Linked DNA regions of Homo sapiens. The protein of the gene in region 1 interacts with the protein of each later gene in a pairwise test. Each region holds a gene or a part of one and is shown on either strand. Other genes may lie near its edges. The genes, in order: PACSIN1, ANKRD24, PHYHIPL, RTKN2, DIP2A, SLC66A2 and FCHO2.

Region 1 (3,500 bases):
GAAGGACAGAAGGGACAGGAGAGGACATGAGGGGTGGGGGCATTCACTGATTTGGGGGGCCCTCCCTGGGGAACCAGGTGGAGGGGTTGGGGGACGAGTGGGTATACCAGATAAGAAGGATGCTGCTTGGTTTGGTTTTACATTTTTCTTAAAGAAAAATAGCTTTTATTATTTTTTCTTATTACCAAAGTAATATAGGTTTGCTGTGGGCAATTTAGAATGTACTAGAAAGCCGAATGAAGGAAGCCCATTAGCCACATCAGACCCACCCACCATGGGCACTTCGTAACTGATTTCCAGCCAGGGGCAGGATGGACCGGAGGGGAGGTCTGGGCTGGGGACTTGGCGGGCAGGTCAGGGTCCCAGGAAGTAGCCGTGAGGATTGGCAGGCAGGTAGAGGAGGGGTCCCGGAGCTTCACTGTGGAAAGCAGGGAAGGAAGTGGGATTGGATGAAGGGGAAGTGGACTCTGATGCAGCCCAACAGGCAACAGGGTGCCCTGGGGCTAGAGTGGCCTTTCAGGTCATGTCCATTTGCCTGTGAGAGTCAGGCCCTAGACCCCAGCATCCTGCGCCCATCAGGCACAGGGTTTGGGTGTGCCTTCCTGCAGGTGGCTCTGTGGTAGCAGCAGTCCCTGAAGCATCTGCCCACTGAGGTCGCCTGCTGACAGCACCCACCCCCTGGGGCAACAGGTAGTGTTCACCACCAGGAAAGATGGGTTGGGAGGAACCCAGAGGTGGGCTGAAGGGACAAGATCAACCGGAGCCTGGCCTCAGCTGGCTCTGGGGAGACAGGACCTCTAATGCCAGGGAAGTTGCTGGTGCCGTTTCCAGAAAAGGAGCGTGTCTGTGGGGAGCAATTTAGAATGTACTGGAAAGCCAAATGAAGAAAACCTATTAGCCACTTCAGACCCACCTGCTGGGGACACTTTGTGGCTGGTTTCCAGCCAGGGGCAGGGTGGCCTGGAGGGGAGGGCTGGGCTGGAGACTGGGGTCGGGGGCTCCCCTCCACCCTCCCCTGGGTGCTGTCTCTGAAGACCTCAACCTTGGGTGTGAGGGGCTGCAGGATACCTGAAAACTGGGAGGGCAGGGGAGGCCTTGGCTATTATTATTATTATTATTATTTTTGAGACGGAGTCTCACTCTGTTACCCAGGCTGGAGTGCAGTGGCGCGATCTTGGCTCATTGCAACCTCCACCTCCGGGTTCAAGCAATTCTCTGCCTCAGCCTCCTGAGTAGCTGGGATTACAGGCGCCCACCACCACGCCCGGCTAATTTTTGTATTTTTAGTAAAGACAGGGTTTCACTATCTTGGCCAGGCTGGTCTTGAACTCCTGACCTCGTGATCCACCCGCCTCGGCCTCCCAAAGTGCTGGGATTACAGGTGTGAGCCACCGCACCTGGCCTACCTTGGCTATTATTTTAAAATCACTCGATATTGTTATAATTATTTTCTTTTTAGAGGCAGGGTCTTGCTCTGTCACCCAGGCTGGAGTGAGTGACACCATCATAGCTCACTGCAGCCTCGACCTCCCGGGCCCAAGGGATCCTCCCATTCAGCCTCCTGAGTAGCTGAGTGCTACCATGCCTGGCTAATTTTTCAATTTTATTGTAGAGATGGGGTCTTACTGTGTTGCCCAGGCTAAAAATAACTTGATATTAAAATGCTGGGTAGGGGCTAGGGTAGTCTTTCTATATAAAATGCAGCATACTCAGGTAATTTTAAATTTCAGAAAAACAACAAATGTGTTTTTGTTGTTTTTTAGTCTAAGTATGTCCCAAACATTGCATAGGACATATTTTTAATAAAAAACTGTATTTGTCATTTATCTGAAATTCAGATTTAACTAGGTGTCCTGAATTTTTATTTTATTTTATTTATTTATTTTTGAGATGGAGTTTTGCTCTTGTCGCCCAGGCTTGAGTGCAAGGCTGCGATCTAGGCTCACTGCAACCTCCGCCTCCCAGGTTCAAGTGATTCTCCTGCCTCAGCCTCCTGAGTAGCTGAGATTACAGGTGCCGGCCACCACACCCAGCTAATTTTTCTGTATTTTTAGTAGAGATGGGGTTTCGCCATGTTGGCCAGGCTGGTCTCAAACTCCTGACCTCAAGTGATCTGCCCGCCTCAGCCTCCCAAAGTGCTGGGATTACAGGCATGAGCCACCGCGCCTGGCCCTGAATTTTTATTGACTAAATGTGGCCACTGTAGGCTGGGGTAGGGAGGAGTGGAGAGAGAGGGTGAGAATTTTCTGTTCTTGAGTGTGGGGGAAGAATCAATAGATACTTGTTTGAAGTTGACAGTTTTAAAACATTAACACATCCATTTTTAGAAACAGGTGAGATGTTCCAAATTTCCCATCTGTTAACTTTCTATACTGGCTAGAGAGTAGTCCCTTATTTGTGGATTTTGGCTCCTTAGTGCTGCTGAGAAATAATAAAACAATAGTTTTCTCATTTATGCAGGTGGGACAAAGGGAGATGTGGTGATCAAGGGTGGAATCACTAAATAGGGGTAATCCATTTGAGAAATAAAAGTCCTCCTAAGAAAGCTCTCATTTGGCGGAGGGCGTGGGAAACTAGAACTCTCACGTCAGTCGGGGAGCATACGTTAGCACTGTGTTTTTGGCAACAGTGGTCACAGTTTTGACTTGGCAATTCCACTTTTTGGGACTTATTCCACAGGTACACTCTGAGCAGGGTGCAAAGATTAGCTGGGCAGAGACAGTCAGTGTAGCAAAGCTAGATGTCTGTCAGGAGGACCAGTGACAAAGTCAAGACCTCTTTGTACGCTGTGATTTCGGGCAGTTGTTCGTTCTGGGATTTAATCAATGGATCTCTGAATGTCGCTGCCTGCCAGGCACCACTTTAGGTGCTTGGGGACACTGAGACAAGATGGGGCGGAGCTTATTACCAGTGTGGAAAGATGGTCATCACGTACTGATAAGTTAAAGCAAGTGGCTTTGTAGAACAATGTGTGTAGTCAAGGTCAGGAGTTCGAGACCAACCTGGCCAATATGGTGAAACCCCTGTCTCTACTAAAAATACAAAAATTACCTGGGTGTGGTGAAGGACGCCTGTAGTCCCAGCTACTCAGGAGGCTGAGGCAGGAGAATCGCTTGAGCCCAGGAGGCGGAGGTTGAAGTGAGCCGAGATCGGGCCACTGCACTCCAGCCTGGGAGACAGAGCCAGACTCTGTCTCAAAAAAAAAAAAAAAAAAAAAAAGAACAATGTGTGTAGTATGATACAATTTTTAAAGTACATGTACATATGTTCTTCTCTGTTCATATTTACATAACAATGTGTAGAAGGCTGCATACCTGATTGTGATTAGAGCTTGCCTCTGGGCTGAGGCCTATCGCAGGGATCTGGAGGGAGAATGCGTCCTCTTTATTTCAGCCATTCTGTGCTGTTTGCATTTTATAAACAAATATCATTACTCATGAAGAAAACAATTAAAACTGCACTTGATGATACTGGGAATTTTTTTCTTAGAAACCTAAAAA
Region 2 (3,500 bases), on another chromosome or scaffold:
TCTAGGGCCACAGGGATGGAATCCACAGGAGTCAGTGCCACAGGTGTGGAGAACCCAGGGGTAGAGGCCACGGTCCCGGGGATCTCTGCTGGCCCCATCCTACATCCTGGTGCCGCAGAGGCCTCGGAAAAGCTTCAAGTAGAGCTGGAGACCAGGATCCGTGGCTTGGAGGAGGCTCTCCGGCAGCGGGAGCGGGAGGCAGCTGCGGAGCTGGAGGCGGCCCTGGGGAAGTGCGAGGCCGCGGAGGCCGAGGCAGGCCGGCTGCGAGAGCGTGTCCGCGAGGCCGAGGGCAGCGGGGCCAGCGGGGGCGGTGGCGGTGACACCACACAGCTGCGGGCGGCCCTGGAGCAGGCCCGGGAGGACCTCCGAGACCGGGACTCCCGCCTGCGGGAGCTGGAGGCGGCCTCGGCCTGCCTGGATGAGGCTCGGGCCAGCCGGCTGCTGGCGGAGGAGGAGGCGCGGGGCCTGCGGGCCGAGCTGGCCCAGCGGGAGGAGGCGCGGCTGGAGCAGAGCCGGGAGCTGGAGGTTCTGCGGGAGCAGCTGGCCACGGCCAGGGCCACGGGGGAGCAGCAGCGCACGGCGGCCGCGGAACTGGGCCGGGCACGGGACGCCGCTGAGGCCCGAGTGGCTGAGCTGCCTGCGGCCTGCGAGGAGGCGCGGCAGGGCCTGGCCGAGCTGCGGGAGGCCTCCGAGGCCCTCCGCCAGTCCGTGGTGCCGGCCTCTGAGCACCGCCGGCTGCAGGAGGAGGCCCTGGAGCTGCGGGGCCGGGCAGCCAGTCTGGAGCAGGAGGTGGTGGCCACGGGCAAGGAGGCCGCCCGGCTGCGCGCGGAGCTGGAGCGGGAGCGTGTGTGCAGCGTGGCGCTCTCGGAGCACGAACGCATCGTGGGCACCCTGCAGGCCAACGTGGCCCAGCTGGAGGGGCAGCTGGAGGAGCTGGGACGGCGGCATGAGAAGACCAGCGCAGAGGTCTTCCAGGTGAGCAGGGCTGGTCACCACCCGGGCCCCACCCCCATTGGCCACGTGGCGGCCTGTTTTAGCCCCGCAGCCTTGAGGTGTTTTGAACCCATCAGTTTTACTTGAACAGACCTACTTTATTTTATTTATTTATTTATTTATTTATTTATTTTTGAGATGGAGTTTCACTCGTGTCGCCCAGGCTGGAGTGTAGTGGTGTGATCTCAGCTCACTGCAACCTCCTCTTTCCCGGTTCAAGTGATTCTCCTGCCTCAGCCTCCGGAGTAGCTGGAATTACAGGCACCTGCCCCCACGCCCAGCTAACTTTTGTATTTTTAGTAGAGATGGGAGTTCACCGTGTTGGCCAGGCTGGTCTTGAACTCCTGACCTCAGGTGATCCACCCACCTCAGCCTCTCAAAGTGCTGGGATTATGGGCATCAGCCTCCGCACCTGGCCTTGAACAGACATTTGACCCTGCAGCCATCCTGACCTCTTGGAATTTTCCACTTGTGTTTTCTCTCTTTCTTTCTCTTTATTTCTCCTTCCTTCCTCTCTCTTTCCTTTCTTTCTTCATCCCCCTTCCCTCCCCCCTTCCCCTTCCCTTCCTTTCTTTTTTTTTTTTTTTCAGACAGGGTGTGGCTCTGTCTGAAAAGTCACCCAGTCACCCAGGCTGGAGTGCAGTGGCACAATCATAGCTCACTGCAACCTCCACCTCCTGGGCTCAAGTAATCCTCCCACCTCAGCCTCCCAAGTAGCTGGTACCACAGGTGTGCACCACCATGCTCGTCTAACTTTTTAATTTTTTGTAAAGACAGGGTTTTGCCATGTTGCCCACGCTGGTCTCAAACACCTGAGCTCATGGCCGGGCACCGTGGCTCACGCCTGTAATCCCAGCACTTTGGGAGGCCAAGGTGAGTGGATCACCTGAGGTCACAAGTTCGAGACCAGCCTGGACAACATCGTGAAACCCCGTCTCTACTAAAAATACAAAAATTAGGTTGGCATTGTGGCACGTGCCTGTAATCCCAGCTACTGGGGAGGCTGAGGCAGGAGAATCGCTTGAACCCGGGAAGTGGAGGTTGCAGTGAGCTGAGATTACACCACTGCACTCCAGCCTAGGCGACAGAGCAAGACTCTGTCTCAAAAAAAAACAAAAACAAAACAAAAACAAGCAAATAGTAGCCAGGCATGGTGGCACCTGTGGTCCCAGCTACTTGGAAGGCCGAGGTGGGAGGATCACTTAAGCCTGAAAGATTGAGGCTACAGTGAGCCATGATCGCACCACCGCACTCCAGCCAGGAGTGCAGGTCCGGAGCAACAGAGCAAGACCCTGTCTTAAAAAAAATCCAAAAACAAAAGAACAAAGTAGAAGGATCATATGAATTCTGGGGTCTAGCATCATTGGAGTCTTAGTGTCCTGAGAGTCATGCGTGGGCTTGGGCCACAGGTGCAGCGTGAGGCCCTGTTCATGAAGAGTGAGCGACACGCAGCCGAGGCACAGCTGGCCACAGCAGAGCAGCAGCTACGGGGGCTACGGACCGAGGCGGAAAGGGCTCGCCAGGCCCAGAGCCGGGCCCAGGAGGCTCTGGACAAGGCCAAGGAGAAGGACAAGAAGGTGGGTGCCCCCTCTCCCACACTCAGTCAGGGAGGCATCCACTCAGCAAAGGTTGGGGCCAATCTACGAAGGTCCTCACTGCAAGGGCCTTGGAAAATCAACCCATTTTCCAGAAGGGAAACTGAGGCTCAGAAACGGAAGGGGACCTGGTTACAGCCTCTGACAAGTCAGACACACACAGGCTGCTGTTCCAGGTACCAATTATAACCACAGTTACATTTATTTTATTTTTTTACTTGAGACGGAGTCTCGCTCTGTCGCCCAGGCTGGAGTGCAGTGGCATGATCTCGGCTCACTGCAACCTCTGGGTTCAAGCAATTCTCGTGCCTCAGCCTCCCGAGCAGCTGGGATTACAGGCATGCGACACCACACCCAGCTAATTTTTTATATTTTTAGTAGAGATGGGGTTTCGTCACGTTGGCCAGGCTGGTCTCGAACTCCTGAGCTCAAGTGATCCGCCTGCCTCAGCCCCCAAAAGGGCTGGGGTTACAGGCGTGAGCCACTGCGTCTGTCTCCACAGTTACATTTATTGAGTGCTTACTGCATGCCAGGCCCTGTGGACTGGATGCATTTAGTCACATCCAGTTCTCACAGGATAGGGGCTTTTATTATCCCCATTTGAGGAAACAGAAGCACAGAGAGGTGAAGTCACTTGCCTAAGGTCACACAGCCATGCAGTCTTTCAGCTGGGTTTGTACCCACGTTCCCACGTTTCGTTCCTAAACAATACTAATGATGATAACAACAGCCTCCAGGTGTTAGATTGGGAATTTTTCACACATTACCTTTTTTTATTGTTGTTTTGTTTTTTTCTGAGGCAGAGTCTTGCTCTGTCACCCAGACTGGAGTGCAGTGGCGTGATCTTGGCTCACTGTAAACTCTGCCTCCCGGGTTCACGCCATTCTCCTGCCTCAGCCTCCCGAGTAGCTG
Region 3 (2,814 bases), on another chromosome or scaffold:
ATTTACACTGACCCTGTGGATCTTTCTGTGGGCACCGTGGCAGAAATCACTGGTCATCAGCTCATGAGTTTGTCTACTGCAAATGCAAAGAAAGATCCCAGCTGCAAAACCTGTAATATCAGTGTTGGACGTTAATGCCCACTTTTCTTATTCTTACTCAGCCCCTTTTCCTCCCTTAGGAGCATTGGTCCTCTGTTGTCCATTTTTATCACCAGATGTTTTCCACTGAAGCATGCACATGCCACTGTCACCAAAACAAACAACTACCACTTTCCAAATTTCATTCAGAACCATTTTAGTGTTTTCCTATTCCCTACCCCTCCCACTACTTTCAATGATGAAATACCCTAAGTTAAGTTCTCCTTTTGACACTTTATTGCCTAGATGCTGCAATGTTTTTATGTTTCCTTTATGCCAAACATAACAAAACAGTTATATAGACTGCTTTAGCAAAGTACACAATAATGGCTTATAAATGGTGTTTAAATATGCATTCATTTTAATCTACTGAACAAATATTGGGATAACTCCAAACCGCATGAAAGGGTGTAATTGCAGCATGAGTTAAATCTTGAAGCCTAGAATTGTCAGCACTTCCAACTTCTTGTTTGACAGTGTTATTTATGTTATTTATATTAGCTAACAGGAAACAACTACTGTGTTTCAACATAATAAATATAATAGAAAAATATTTTATTTGTATTGTTGTATAAAATATTTACAATCATATAGAATATATAGAGTTACATTTTAATAGCAACTGTGTACATGTCACGAAACCATTTCCCTTATCAAAGATGTAATTTGTAAACCTCAAATAGTTGTGTATCTGTCCTGTTAGAAGTAGATGACTTCAATTAAACAAATTTATGAAGGACATTATTCTGATTCATAAAAGTTATAAAATATTAGGTAAATACAGAGAAAACAATAAGCCTCTGAAATAAGTCTGTTTCTGAAATAGTCAATAGTCTTCCCATCCAAACTATAAGAGAATGTGAATTTCTTCAACATCATACTTAAACATTACAGAAAATAGAAATACAAACAAGGTTGGTACATGAGAGAAAATGTTGACCTTTTACTTCCTTTTACAAAAATGAAAATAATAAACATGTTTTCGTATAAAATAACACAAAATGATATACACTGAAGTTGATGAAGCAAATAAATATTCTGGCTTCTTTTTCAAGGTATCAGGGCAAACAATTTCCAAACTTTTCATTTTGTACAGAAGGATGAATAACTACAGCTCATGGGAAATGTTTTGACTTTACAAAGTATAGATGTTGGAACATTAAGAAAAATGTATATTCCCAATGAAAAAATAGTTATATCATCTTATAGTAAACCAAAAGATTAGCAATAATACTATGGACACATTAGATTATATACTACAGACACATATCTATCCAAAATACCTATTTTAAATTTTTAATACAATATTTTATTTTAATATAAACATCTGTCAGTTATAGACAAAGATAATAATTCACAAAGTACATGCTATCAGAATGAACTTTGGTAACCAGAAATGTAAAATTTCAAATAACGGATAAAATAATGTGTTATTTTTATAGAGAAAGAAAAAAATAGCAACACAATCTAGTTTATTTTAGGGTACTGAGAGCCTAGCAGACTTAAAGGACAAGGTAGTAAATGTTTTATCACTCAAAAATCCATTAGAAGTTTCAAATAAATTGCTTTCTTGCTAGCTGTATTCCTTCCTACTTGAAAAGCGAATTTCTTTTCCTCCTATGATTGATTTTTTAAAATCATGCTCTTTTCCATACATCAACATAAACAGTCTTTGGATACTAAATAAACTTTCCCTAACAAGTGTCCTAGCTATGTTATTTAGATTTGATAAAATATTAGACATTTTTAAAAATACTTGTATTGACTATGAGTTTTCTGCTTGGCATGGAGGACACTGAATTTTTTCCCAATTATATGGCTACCTGTTGTATTCTTCCCCCCGTTTAAATCCCTTCTCCTTGTATATAATTAAACTTGCTATTCCTTCTTAAAAACAGCTAATACTACCACTAAAGTGCTTCCATTTTCATTGTGTCAAAACTACTTAGCAAGGATGGCAGAGGAAAATAAACTTTACTTTATATCATGGGTGAAAGTGATCATAACATTTCCTGAACCTCAAATAGTTTTGGCCACATCTTGCTTGCTGATGAGGACCTCTAATAGTCTCAGTTTGGCTTTTATGTGCTTATATTCATAATACTCATCTGCCATTGGTATCCTATCTTCCTTTTGTGGACTTCTGCAAAACAAAAATACATTTGTTAGTTCACAATGAATCAAGTCATTATTTAAACATTCTTTTATAATTCATACATGAGAAAGTATACTGTAACGGCCTCCACTTGGTTTTTGCATCATGTCTTCTTTTCCTTCCCTTTCACCTTCATTCACTCCTTCTTCCATGTGTTACTAAGTTTCTAAATAATAGTAACCTTTGAAAACTTGAATGTCATAAGTGTTTTGCAAATATGTGGTCTAGTGCTTAGACTTACAACAAAGGGGTCAGTGAAAAGATCTAAGGAGAAGCAAACAAACAAGAAACAGAACTTTCAAGGCATTCTTTGTCCAGTCATTCTTCCATTATTTGCCACACCCCTACAGCTGTACAAAATGATCAGCCCTAATACAGTTGTTAAAAATATTAACCTGAAAATACTACAGGAATTTCATTATAAAAATAACATAAACCTATGGTAACAAGAAAAGCATTTAGGGTCTGTCTTACAAACTTGAAACGTTTCCAGATTTTCTTGTAATTATAATACCTATCTC
Region 4 (3,500 bases), on another chromosome or scaffold:
AATGGTTCTAGGTAAAAAGGGCTTCAGTCCTGTTTCAAAGTTCTACTCTGAGGGCACAACTGCTAGGTAATTTCTGTATGAATACTTTCTTTTTCTTATACACCTTAAGTCCTTCCTGCTGTTATCTGCATGAGGAAAAATGACAAGAATATAATCTGGAAGTTTTAATACTGATTTGTAATAAAGGAAGGCATCAACTAGGAAAAAAAAAAGAATGCTTAGATGCCAGCTTCAAAACAATTTTCCCTGCAGCATCTTCTAGCTCAATAATTTAGTGGCAATGACAGTCACAAATGCTGTCAAAAACAGCAATGAAGTTTTAAAAAATAACCCAAAAATTCAAACAATAATATCCTTTAGATTTTTAATGTCATTTATTGAAATGGCAATCATAACAGAAACTTATGAGAGCCTTCTAGTTAGAAAAAATAAGTTTACTTTTTAAGGTTTCCATACATGTGATGATCTCTACATGCTATCAAGCAGGCATATAGTACTTTCTTCTCACCAAAAACTCTGTCTGTCCTGATGTTACCAGTCACAAGAAACCTTTTGTTATCATTACTCCCTCAAGATTCAATTCTTACTAGGAGTCCTGGGCAAACACAAAAGTGTCCTGGCAGTTACATCATTCTCTATAAATGGAAAAGACCCCGCTATCTGAAAATAATGAAAGGCTCCATTTAAATTAATGTGGTTTTTTGGTCAAGTGTTCATTTTGTTTTGTAATAATGTAGTTCTGATCCAAATAGAGTTCTTGCTAGCTTTAAAAAGATCTCAAGAGATTATACACAGGGCAGCAATTTAATTCTTAAATTTTTATTTCTTGCAATGACATTTAGGGTTCAGTGTGATTTGAGATTTTTAGTGCTGTTGCTGACACCTTATGGAAACTGTTTTATTTGGAAATTCTAATTAGATTTTTAAAACTGTTCTGCTCTTGTTTACAAAAAGCATTATTATAAAAAATGGATTTTTTGTTCCTTTAAGGTATTTTTCTGCTATTTATTCCTCACTTGACTTTATAATCCTGTTTGGGTCACTATGATTAGTTGCTATGGAAATTACCTCCTATGGAAATGATTCCAATGTCACTGTTGTAAGAATATGACATTTAATGAAAAATACCACTAGCAGACATCAACTCTTACTAGGAAAAGGAAATCTAATTAAAATTTTAAAAAAGAATTCTGAAAATTATTTACCATGGCCAACTTTTCTGATATTTTTGAATCTCTCATCTTCTTTTTAAATAAGTATTAAATGAATTTTAAGGTGTTGATCAGCTACTCACTTCCCTAAATTCCAAAGTCACAATGGAAATTAGCACCACACACAGAAAATTGAATGTAAAGAGCATTTCATCTACCATTTCTCTAAACTAGTAAGTGTTATGCTTCATTTATGAAAGTTAATGTCAACAGTATTTCAGGGCTCATCAAGGAAACAAGTTTGAATAGCACATTACAAATTCCCTTTAAAGATGAAGAATTTAATATTCTAAAATTTATCCCAGGAATTTAAAAGGTCAGGCCTATAAACTAGTGAGTTAAACAATAGATGAGAGCCAGTGAACCATTAGATGAGAATTCCAGAATGCTAAGAAAATTTTCTTGGGTGGATTCTATAATTTGTGGTTTGAATAAAACCTTTGAAACATTCCATTAGTATTAAAATTCTCACAATGAGAATATGGTTCATATTTAACACATTTTAAATTACTAGACAGTCTCTCCCCAAAAGAAATTTTAATGCTTTATTCTGCCTAGGGCTTATTCACTGCCTGGTACTAATTCAGGAATAAATTAACCCTTCCAACAATTAGGATATTGTCTAGAAACTGCCTCTTGCACACTGCTGGAGAAATCACTTACATTCTGCAAATCAGGAGTAAAAGAGAAATCCACTTCTTCATTATAAAATGTTTTTCTATACCTAATAGCTTATTAATTATTGGTATAAATCACTATATTTACCTATATAATTACACATTATTCTATAATGCCTCTGAATTAAGCTTCACAGTTATAGATTTTGTTAAATGTTTTATCATTAAGAGTTTTCTATACTTGTGCCTGCAGCCATGATCTAGGGTCCAGAATGTCTTTGATGGATTTCTGCCTTGGAGCTGGCACTGGCTTGGCTTCAAAATTGGTTTTAGTGTCTGTGTGCTCACCATCACTTAATCTATTTCTCCTGGCAGGCAGAAGTTTTCGAGGAGCAGCCATTGGTTTCTGTAAGTGATGCATTAGAGTTGATAGTTTGGTATCCAAAGACGATGTCTGAGATACACTTGTTTTTCCCCAGTTGTCCTTAACCAATTGATCTGTGTTACTCTGTGATTTTAAGCTGAATGGAAGTTTATCAGAAGGAGGAAGGGGAGCTTGTCTCTTTTTCCCTTTTTCATCATGTAATGGCTCACTTGCAGGATACAGTACCTTTTTCTGGATGACCATTTGATGGTTACCATCAAAGAGTGTGGCCCAAGGAGGTGGTAAGGATTCTTCATGCTGACCAATAAGGAACTGCCCATTTGTCTCTTCAATTTTTTTTTGTATTATATCCGTTAAACTTTCAAGTTTCATAGGTGAATCAATGCCTATAATAATTTTAAGAAAAAAAAACATGAAAAAATTCAAAAGCAGTATGTACTTTATCTAAATAAGTTCTTTTCCAAACTAGTATGCTATATACAATGGTCATCAAAGACTATGATAAGGAAAACGTTCACTTGTAAAAATAACCACACCATCAGAACTAAAAAGATCATGCGCTGCACTAATCATACATTATATATGTAAACATACACATAATACATAGTATATAAAACATATATAACATACATATAATTTACATAATACATACACATGTATAAATATATTCCTATATAAATTAGCAAAATCCATCTTTCAAAGAAGTGGAGTTATATGAGTTTTCTAAAAAATTCTATAGATTAAGTATTTATGAGATAACATTTCCTGGATTTAAAACCTTATTCTGACTGCTAGGTAAGAGATTTCCTTTTTTACAAAAGCTAGATATATATTAGGATGACTGCATTTGGATGAGTATTCTTTCCTGTAGACCAGCAAAGTCTCTGTTAAAAGGGAAAATGCTTAAAACCAAAAACCCAGGAAAACAGAGTAAAGCCCTCATACCACTTTGGTAATAAGGGTGGTGGGTGAAACTTTCCTTGGCAAAAATAAAAGAACAGAGATAAATCTCTATTAAATAAATTACTGGTATTTTAAAATGTGTGAACCCAAATGTATCATTTTTAACCTGACATTTTAAAGTGAATGTAAGTACAGGTACATTAGTGGCAAATTAAACAGAATTTAGACTGACTTGCACTTGTTCACAACATTATTTACTGAGGCAACAGCACAAAAATAAACACCCTTCAAGGTGTGGGAAATTGAATATTAGTGGGTCTAGAAATTTAAAATTTTCCAAAGTATTAAACTTAACCAATTTCTTTTTTCTGGCTAGAGATGAAA
Region 5 (3,500 bases), on another chromosome or scaffold:
GATATTAAAATTGAAATCACTGATATTTCTTTTTTTAAATCGACATGATTAACCTATAAGAACTCGTGCATATTTAATATATAAATTTTGATGAATTTAAAGGTAAGTATATCCCTGTGAAACCATCACCATAAACATAAACATAAACATCATCTCTAAAAGTTTCTTCCTTTCCTGTTTGTGATAAGAACATTTAACATGAGCTCTACTCTCTTAACAAATTTTTAAATATACAATACAGTATTGTTAACTATATGCACTATGCTGTACAGCAGCTCTCTAGCAGTTACTCATCCTGTATAACTGAAACTATATACCCTTTGATCAACACCTTCCAGATTCTCCCACCACCCCAGTCTCTGGCAACCACCATTCTACTCTCTGCTTCTATGAGTCTGACTATTTTAAATTTCTGACACAAGTGGGCTTGTGTAGGATTTGTTCTGGCGCCGATTTTCTCTCTTTTTTTTTTTTTTTTAGACAGGGTATCATGGAGTGCAGTGGTGCAATTTCAGGTCACTGCAGCCTCCACCTCCCAGGTTCAAGCGGTTCTCCCTGCCTCAGCCATCAGAGTAGCTGGGATTATAGGCGTGCACCACCACACCCAGCTTTTTTTTTTTTTTTTTTTTGAGACAGTCTCACTGTCACCCAGGCTGGAGTGCAGTGGCACAATCTCAGCTCACTGCAGCCTCCGGCTCCTGGGTTCAAGAGATTCTCCTGCCTCAGTCTCCCGAGTAGCTGGGATTATAGGTACTTGCCCCCATGCCAGGCTAATTTTTTTTTTTATTTAGTAGAGGCGGAGTTTCACCATGTTGCCCAGGCTGGTCTCAAACTCCTGGCCTCAAGTGATCCGTCTACCTCGGCCTCCCAAACTGCTGGGATTACAGGCATGAGCCACTGCACCCAGCCCTAATTTTCATATTTTTTAGCAGAGATGGGGTTTCACCATGTCACTCAGGCTGATCCCAAACTCCTGAGTTCAAACGATCCAACCTCCTCAGCCATCCTCTTCGACCTCCCAAAGTGCTGGGATTATAGGTGTGAGCCACTGGGCCCAGCTGGCATTGATATTTTTAAAGAAACTTAGAAATCAAAATTTTGTACAAAGACACTTGTACTGGGATAATTTACTATGAAAAAAAAAACAAACAAAACCTAAAGAGGGTATTCCCGAAACATGAATAATAAATTTTGTTAGTGCAACAGACAAGCAACTAGTCAGTAAGTGTAACTTTTAAAGATTTTCAAACATGTTTTATAAATTTAAATGCCTGATTGTCCTTACATACACAAACTGAAATAATTATTAAACTAGGCAATAGCTTTAAAATGTTACAAAAAATATAAAGAAATAGATGATGACATCCATGTCTTTCAGCTACTATGTTCTAGTTATTCAAGAGACTGAGGCAAGAAGATCATTTGAACCCAGGAGTTAAAGGCAGCAGTGAGCTATCCTCACACCACTGCACTCCCAACTGGGCAACAGAGCGAGACACTATCTTAAAAAACAAACAAACAAACAAACAAACAAAACTAATACTGTGAAATTTTTTAAATATTTAACTCATTTAAATTTTTTTTTTTTTTTTTTTGAGACGGAGTCTCGCTCTGTAGCCCAGGCTGGAGTGCAGCGGTGCGATATCGGCTCACTGCAACCTCCGCCTCCCAGGTTCACGCCATTCTCCTGCCTCAGCCTCCCGAGCAGCTGGGACTACAGGCACCCACCACCACGCCCGGCTGATTTTTTGTATTTTTAGTAGAGACAGGATTTCGCTGTGTTAGCCAGGATGGTCTCGACCTCCTGACCTCGTGATCCGCCCGCCTCGACTTCCCAAAGTGCTGGGATTACAGGCGTGAGCCACCGCGCCCGGCCTAACTCATTTAAAATTTTTAATAATAAACTGACTAGATATTAAGGTAAATAATATTTTTTACTAAAAATAAAAGATTTCTGAAAACAAAAACATTTAGTAAGAAGAGGTATTCTTTTACATTTTTGCAAGTTGCTTTAACTCTGGCTTCAGAGAAGACAATATGGATTCTCATACCTGCTCCTGTATCCAATCTGTTGTACTGTGTGGTTTTTTTGGTTGAAGTCTATGAATCAAATCCTTTTTCAGAGAGACATGCAGTTGGAAAAAGGTGGGGTGTCTCAGCAGCCTTTTCAGATCACTGTGGACATTCTTCCTTGATACAACACCAAAACCAGGCAAGGGGGAGTCTCTTAAAAAAAAAAAGTTGTGGCCGGGAGTGGTGGCTCAGGCCTGTAATCCCAGCACTTTAGGAGATCAATGCGGGCGGATCACGAGGTCAGGAGTTCGAGACCAGCCTGACCAACACGTGAAACCCAATCTCTACTAAAAATACAAAAATTAGCCAGGCATGGTGGCAGGCACCTGTAATCCCAGCTACTCAGGAGGCTGAGGTAGGAGAATCACTTCAACCTGGGAGGCAGAGGTTGCAGTGAGCTGAGATCGCGCCACTGCACTCCAGCCTGGGAGACAGAGCAAGACTCCATCTCAAAAAAAAAAAAAAAAAAAAAAAAGTTATAATGTAGAATCTATAACTCTTATCAGTGAACTTTTCATATCACTACATTAAAATCCATTGGTCTATCTTTTGAATGAATCTTTTACCCATGCACTATGACTTTGTAACGTGGTGCAATGGTGAGCTGGAAAATATTAGTTCACAAAATTATGTGGATCTTCCAAATGCTGACACATTTAATTATATAATATCAAATACTCATTCATTATATTGTCACCAATCTCATCAAAGAAGTCGTTAACTATTGAGAAACTGTCAAGCTCACTGTAGCAGATAAATTTTTTCAAAATTTTGATTTTTGCTTGAAAGCACAAATATTATCATTGGTCATAAATTGTCAGTTATTTCCTCTCATTTATTTTCCAGAAAACGTCCACCAAATACCCAAGTCTCAATAACTGCAGATTGTCTGCTACCCACTTTTTCAAGCAAAAATGGCATTTCACAATAAAAGCAGCTAGTTCGCTTTGCAACTCAAACTACACAATTGCTGTTTCTCAAAACAGGCACTGTACCTCTTTGTGCAGCAAAAGCAATTCATGTACTTCCCATTTCCTCATGAAAAGACAAAAGGCCAATTTTTTTTTTTAATTTTTACTGCTTCATCAGGGTCTGTTTAAGTGAAAGCAGCCCTTTTTGTTTTTTTAAAACTGCAAGTGGAGAGGTAGCGAATAATATAATGACTATCAGTGACACTTGGAGTCCCTGCCTCAATTTACGTTAAAGTGCCCAGCAGTTTTCCCTATTACTGCTTTTGGACCATCAGTACAAGTGTCAACACAGTGAAAACAGAAATGGCATCTTAGTATCATTATAAAAATAGTCTCCCTCTGCCTCCTGGGTTTGAGCGATTCTCCTGCCTCAGCCTCCCACGTAGCTGGGATTACAGGCACGTGCCACCATGACCAGCTAATTTTTTTTTTGTTATATTTAGTAGCAACGGGGTT
Region 6 (2,367 bases), on another chromosome or scaffold:
CATTCACCAAACAGACCATATCCTGGGTCATGAGAATTTTTTTAAAAAAGAACTGAAATTGTGCAAAGTATTTTCTATGAATATAATATAATTAAGCTAGAAATTAATAGCAGAAATAGATCTTAAGTCTCCAAAGGTTTAGAAGCTAAACAACACACCTTTAAACAATCTGTTAAAGAGGATATTGCAAAGCAAACTATTGAAAATATTTTGAACTGAAAAATACACCACCATATCAAAATTTGTGGGATGCAACTAAAGCAATGCTTAGAGTTAAATGTGTAGTATTAAATACTGATTTTAGAAAAAAGTTCTCAAATCATCAATCTAAGCTTAAGAAACTATAAAATGAAATGCAAAGGAACCCCAAGCCAGCAGAAGGAAGGAAATAACGGAGCTAACACCAAGCAACAAAAATGAAAACAAAACTGCAGCAAACATAAAAAACCAAACTGAAAGCTGGTTCTTTGGAACAAATCATTAACTGATAAACCAGTGGCCAGAATGACAAGAAAGCACAGATCCCCAGTATTTGGTATGGAAGAGGATATTCTGTAGACCCCACAGGCATCAAAAGAGTACAATGAACAACCTCATGCCCATACATTTGAAAATTTGGATAAAATGGACCAATTCCTTTAACCCAAGAAGAAATAGCTTGAGTATCTCTTAAGTAGATAACCCGTATCTATGAAGGAAGTTGTAGATGCATAATCTAAAGTCTGAAAAGGCTCTTTTTCCAGAGAAGCCAGAAATTGTGTCTGTGTGTGGGTGTGTGTGTGTTTACAGAGTTACCAACTGATTAGAAACAAAGTGTTGAAACTCAAGTGTGAGCTGATGCTGCATGCCAAGTAAAGCCACGGGCTTTGTGTGGGAAGTAGCCTGTCCCTGAAGCAGGCGTGGTGGTGGCTCTCAGGCCTTGAGTCTTGTTCGCAAGCACATCCTGGGAAATCTCAGCCGTGTGTGAGGGTCAGGCGAGCTCTGTTTCCCATCCTGGTGTGAGGGGTCAACCGGAAGCTGCGTGGGGCGAAGGTGACCGGTGGCGGGGTCACCGCGCAATGCTCGGGCGCCTGCTGTGTGCATGGCTAGCGCAGGAAAGGCAGGCGCCTTTGCACCGGGGCTGTGGTCCCAGGCCCGGAGCCCCACCCCAAGTCAGCTGTGCAGCCCTGCCTGGGCCTAAAGCAGGCAGGGGGGAATTCCGAAGCCTGGGCTGACTGCTGGGGTGTGTGAGAGGCCGAGGGGCCTGCACCACCTTCCCCCGGTGCTACCCAGGCACCACCCTGTCTTTTTGTCTGTGGAAGAGACTGGATTTTGTGGAGCTGGAGCTGCATCCAGGGGAGGACACATCCCAGAGAATAAAAAATGGGAGGAAAATGCCCTCTGTGGGTCAGGGCCTTATAATTTAGCTAAACCGACCCAAGTGGAAACAGTCCCAAAGCCTCCTGGTTTTTCCCAGTGGGTGTAATGATAAAGCCGGATTTATGTTCTCAGAGGCCAACAAGATGCTCTAGAGCCGAGCACTGTGGGCTTGGGAGAGAGGAGGGGGTGCAGATGCCGGCTGTCTCCTGCGGGTTCCTAGCTCCAGCCCTGAACACACCCGGCCATGGCTGTGCCTGAAGACTCTCACACAGGGCGGCTACGGCACCCAGGTGCCCACCCTGGCTTATGAGCGGGACGGACGCCCCAGGGTGGGGGAGGGCTGTGTCCTGTCCTTTCTGTCCAGGCAGCGCTCCCCACCCAGGCTCTGCCTCTGGCTTCAGGAGCTGTGGAAGGGTCAGCGGCCGCTGATTTAAACATTTCACACGGGAAAGTGCAGCAGCACTCATGTTCACTGCTAGGCAAGCCAGGGCATGAACACAGCGGTGGGGGAAGCGTGTTCGGACTGGGATGGTGGGTGGCGGCTGCTCCCTGTTCACTCCAGGAAAGGAAGGTTTGCATCTATCACCAGGGAGGGAGGCCGGCAGAGACCCAAAAGCAGCTGCTCTGCTCCACTTGGCTGTGTGCCTGGGGGCACAGATCTGCGTCCTCAGCACCCTCCCAGGCCCGGCCCCTCCCAGAATTGCCACCGCGCACCAGGGGCCCTGACGTCAGCTGCTCGCCCTGCTGTCCCCTGTAGCCTCGAGCTGGTCTCACTGTTCTTGGGCTTGCAGAGCCCCAGCCAGGCGGCAGCTCTTGCGGCCACAGAGAAGTCAAGGGTGGGGGTTGCATGGGACAGGTGGGGTCAGGGTGTGTCCTTTGGCCCCCTGGGGTGTCCCTGACCCCTGGGTCACCCTGTAGACTGGGTGTCCCCTCAACCCCCTGGGTGCCCCCTGAGCCCCAGGCCTCCCCGCCGACTGCCTGGGGGTCCCCTTAGCCCCCTGGGTGCCC
Region 7 (2,991 bases), on another chromosome or scaffold:
AAATTTGTTCTCTCAAAAATAAGACACAGGCTGGGTGCAGTGGCTCATGCCTGTAATCCCAGCACTTTGGGAGGCCAAGGCAGGTAGATCGTGAGGTCAAGAGATCGAGACCATCCTGGCCAACATGGTGAAACCCTGTCTCTACTAAAAATACAAAAATTAGCTGGATGTAGTGGCACGTGCCTGTAGTGTCAGCTACTCGGGAGGCTGAGGCAGGAGAATTGTTTGAACACGGGAGGTGGAGGTTGCAGTGAGCCAACATCGCACCACTGCCCTCCAGCCTGGCGCAGAGACTCCGTCTCAAAAAATAAAAAAATGAGATACAAATTTTCTAACCAGATTTTAAGTTTCCCTCTGCTATTCAGGTATCAGGTGTTTCTGTGAGGAAATGGAAAAATCTTATAAATGTGGTTTTTGATGTGGTTAGTCAAGCCTTTGAAAAGAATATCCAAGGCCAGGCATGGTGGCTCATTCCTGCAATCCCAGCACTTTGGGAGGCTGAGGCAGGTGGATCACTTGAGGCCAGGAGTTGGAGACCAGCCTAGACAATGTGGCAAAACCCTGCCTCTACTAAAAATACAAAAATTAACCAAGTGTGGTGGCACGTGCCTGTAGTCCCAGTTACTCAGGAGGCTGAGGCACGAGTCTAGCTTGAACCTGGGAGGCAGAGGTTTCAGTGAGCCAAGATTGCACCACTGTATTCCAGCTTGGGCCTTAGAGGGAGACTCTGTCTCAAAAAATAAATAAATAAATAAATAAATAAATAAATAAATAAATAAATAAATAAGAATGCTGTAAAATAGGCTGGGCACGGTGGCTCACACCTGAAATCCCAGCACTTTGGGAGGCTGAGGCGGGTGGATCATGAGGTCAGGAATTCAAGACCAGCCTGGCCAATATGGTGAAACCCTGTCTCTACTAAAAATACAGAATTAGCCAGGCATGGTGGTGTGCGCCTGTAATCCCAGATACTCAGGAGGCTGAGGCAGGAGAATCGCTTGAACCCAGGAGGCGGAGGTTGCAGTGAGCCAAGATCGTGCCACTGCACTCCAGCCTAGGCAACAGAGTGAGAGACTCTGTCTCAAAAAAAAAAAACACAAAAAATTCTGTAAAATAGAAATCTGTTTTCTGTTGCTGACTGTGTACTCAGAAGAGGGACAGGAAATATTTCTAAGGTGATTGTCAAGGTTGTTGCTCTTGGTCTATGGTAGAACTTTTGCACAACCAAATTGGTTATCAAGAATTGTAAAAGTTTGAGGGCCTGGATAGTAATTAAGAATAAGGCAGCAGTTCATCTCCACTACTGATCTATGCCTCCAGGCATAATAATACAAGTTGGATCAATGTTGTGACATCCTATTCTCCATTTCTCTGTGTAGTGTTAAGCTTCTGTGCAGGGGATCACAGGATCTTACTGCTAGTACCTAGCATTTCTGTCCATTTGCTCTATCCAGAAACCTGGGAACCCTCCTAGACTCCTCCTTTCTCATTTCTTGATTCCAACTCCTAAATATCTTTCAAATAACTTTCTTAATATCTTTCCTTTTTATTAGCCCTAGTTCAGATCCCCCTTTCCTATCATCTAGAGTCCTAAACTGTTTTGACTTGCAGTTGGTCTCCCAACCTTGCATCTTGTGCTTCTCTTCCCTTTTGAGACACTAATCTGAAATGTTCTTGTCTTCCTTATCTTTGGTGACTTCCCATGGTTACATCATGAATTTCTTACCATGGCCTGGCCCATGCTACCACTCTAGTCTCATCTGCCACTCCCCTCTACCTGTATCCTGTTCTCCTGCTAATCTGATATAGATGCTATTTCGTTAAATGCATCATGCTCTGTCTCTGTATCTTTGGTAACTTCTGCCTAAAATACACACCATCATCCCCACCACCATTTATAATTTTCAGCTGAGATAGGTGCTTTTGTGCCTGTAGCTCCTCAGAGCTCCTTTACAGCATTTATAATATTCATTATAATTATTGGTTTACTGTTCCTGCCATTCCATTAGACTGAAGTATACTGAATAAATGGTGATGATACTAGAAACAAAACACCTCAGAAATACCTACTTGGCATTATGTTAGACCAGTAAAACTTTAAAAAGAAAAGTGAATAGAAAATAGCAATGTTATACAACTCTTCCCAACCGTAGTTACCTTTCCATCTTTACTTCTTCTACTACTCAGTAGTCATTTCTTTTTTAACTTTATGCCACCTATATCCCTCCTAGGGTTTTTCTCTGGGCTGTCCTCAGTTACTTCCTTCTTCTCTTTTGACTCGCCTCAACATGCATATAGCATAGGAGTCCAGTAGTTAACATCTCTGAAGATTAGTATTGAGTCAAAGAAAAGCATGGGTTATTTACTTAATGAAAATTGATATTCACTAAAAAATATGAGATTTGGAAACAGGATAATAGTTTGTTTACTGTGCACATCTAATGAATGTAGCACAGGACTGATGTAGTTTAGCTTACTTGCTCATTTGATTCTATTTTGTTTGAAATGTATTTTACCCTGTGTAAGTGCTTTATTCTTTTCTTTGTAGGTTCTGGGTCCCTCCGAGCAAAATTTGATCTTTCAGAAGGACCTAGTAAACCCACGACACTTGCAGTACAATTCCTCAGCGAGGGAAGTACCCTTTCAGGAGTAGATTTCGAACTTGTGGGCACTGGCTATAGGCTTTCCTTAATAAAGAAGCGGTTTGCTACTGGTAAGTTAGGAGATTTCAAACTTTTTAATGTACATGGGAAACATTTGTATTCTAACAGTTATTAAAAAACTGTCAAGCAATTTATAATCTAAAGACATGGAAATTTTTTCTTTAACCCTTGGTACAAGGTGCCAGGTAGAGACACACCTGGGAGAGAGTTCTTACGGTCAGTATAGCTGAACACCTGTTATCTGATTCTAATGTACTGTAAATAGCAGATGGGAACTAGAGTTTTGTATTGGTAACCACAGTGGAAAATGTCCTTAGAGTGCATTTGA

The links.
Region 2: the proteins of PACSIN1 (region 1) and ANKRD24 interact in a two-hybrid assay, tested with the Homo sapiens proteins (2 studies listed by BioGRID and IntAct).
Region 3: the proteins of PACSIN1 (region 1) and PHYHIPL interact in a two-hybrid assay, tested with the Homo sapiens proteins (one large-scale study listed by IntAct).
Region 4: the proteins of PACSIN1 (region 1) and RTKN2 interact in a two-hybrid assay, tested with the Homo sapiens proteins (one large-scale study listed by BioGRID and IntAct).
Region 5: the proteins of PACSIN1 (region 1) and DIP2A interact in a two-hybrid assay, tested with the Homo sapiens proteins (one large-scale study listed by IntAct).
Region 6: the proteins of PACSIN1 (region 1) and SLC66A2 interact in a two-hybrid assay, tested with the Homo sapiens proteins (one large-scale study listed by IntAct).
Region 7: the proteins of PACSIN1 (region 1) and FCHO2 interact in a two-hybrid assay, tested with the Homo sapiens proteins (one large-scale study listed by IntAct).

Annotation. Positions count from the first base shown.
Region 1 is NC_000006.12:34,469,076-34,472,575, forward strand, and holds part of PACSIN1 (protein kinase C and casein kinase substrate in neurons protein 1), read left to right. Parts: intron 1-3,500. UniProt on the Homo sapiens protein: Plays a role in the reorganization of the microtubule cytoskeleton via its interaction with MAPT; this decreases microtubule stability and inhibits MAPT-induced microtubule polymerization.
Region 2 is NC_000019.10:4,217,189-4,220,688, forward strand, and holds part of ANKRD24 (ankyrin repeat domain-containing protein 24), read left to right. Parts: coding exon 1-975; intron 976-2,402; coding exon 2,403-2,570; intron 2,571-3,500. UniProt on the Homo sapiens protein: Component of the stereocilia rootlet in hair cells of inner ear.
Region 3 is NC_000010.11:59,245,457-59,248,270, forward strand, and holds the end of PHYHIPL (phytanoyl-CoA hydroxylase-interacting protein-like), read left to right. Parts: coding exon 1-135; 3' UTR 136-2,157; coding exon of another isoform or gene 2,158-2,281; 3' UTR 2,282-2,314; downstream 2,315-2,814. Other genes in the region: protein FAM13C, read right to left, coding at 2,158-2,281. UniProt on the Homo sapiens protein: May play a role in the development of the central system.
Region 4 is NC_000010.11:62,195,845-62,199,344, forward strand, and holds part of RTKN2 (rhotekin-2), read right to left. Parts: intron 2,600-3,500; coding exon 2,064-2,599; 3' UTR 1-2,063. UniProt on the Homo sapiens protein: May play an important role in lymphopoiesis.
Region 5 is NC_000021.9:46,465,391-46,468,890, reverse strand, and holds part of DIP2A (disco-interacting protein 2 homolog A), read right to left. Parts: intron 1-3,500. UniProt on the Homo sapiens protein: Catalyzes the de novo synthesis of acetyl-CoA in vitro. Promotes acetylation of CTTN, possibly by providing the acetyl donor, ensuring correct dendritic spine morphology and synaptic transmission.
Region 6 is NC_000018.10:79,904,287-79,906,653, reverse strand, and holds part of SLC66A2 (solute carrier family 66 member 2), read left to right. Parts: intron 1-2,367.
Region 7 is NC_000005.10:73,085,041-73,088,031, forward strand, and holds part of FCHO2 (F-BAR domain only protein 2), read left to right. Parts: intron 1-2,548; coding exon 2,549-2,713; intron 2,714-2,991. UniProt on the Homo sapiens protein: Functions in an early step of clathrin-mediated endocytosis. Has both a membrane binding/bending activity and the ability to recruit proteins essential to the formation of functional clathrin-coated pits.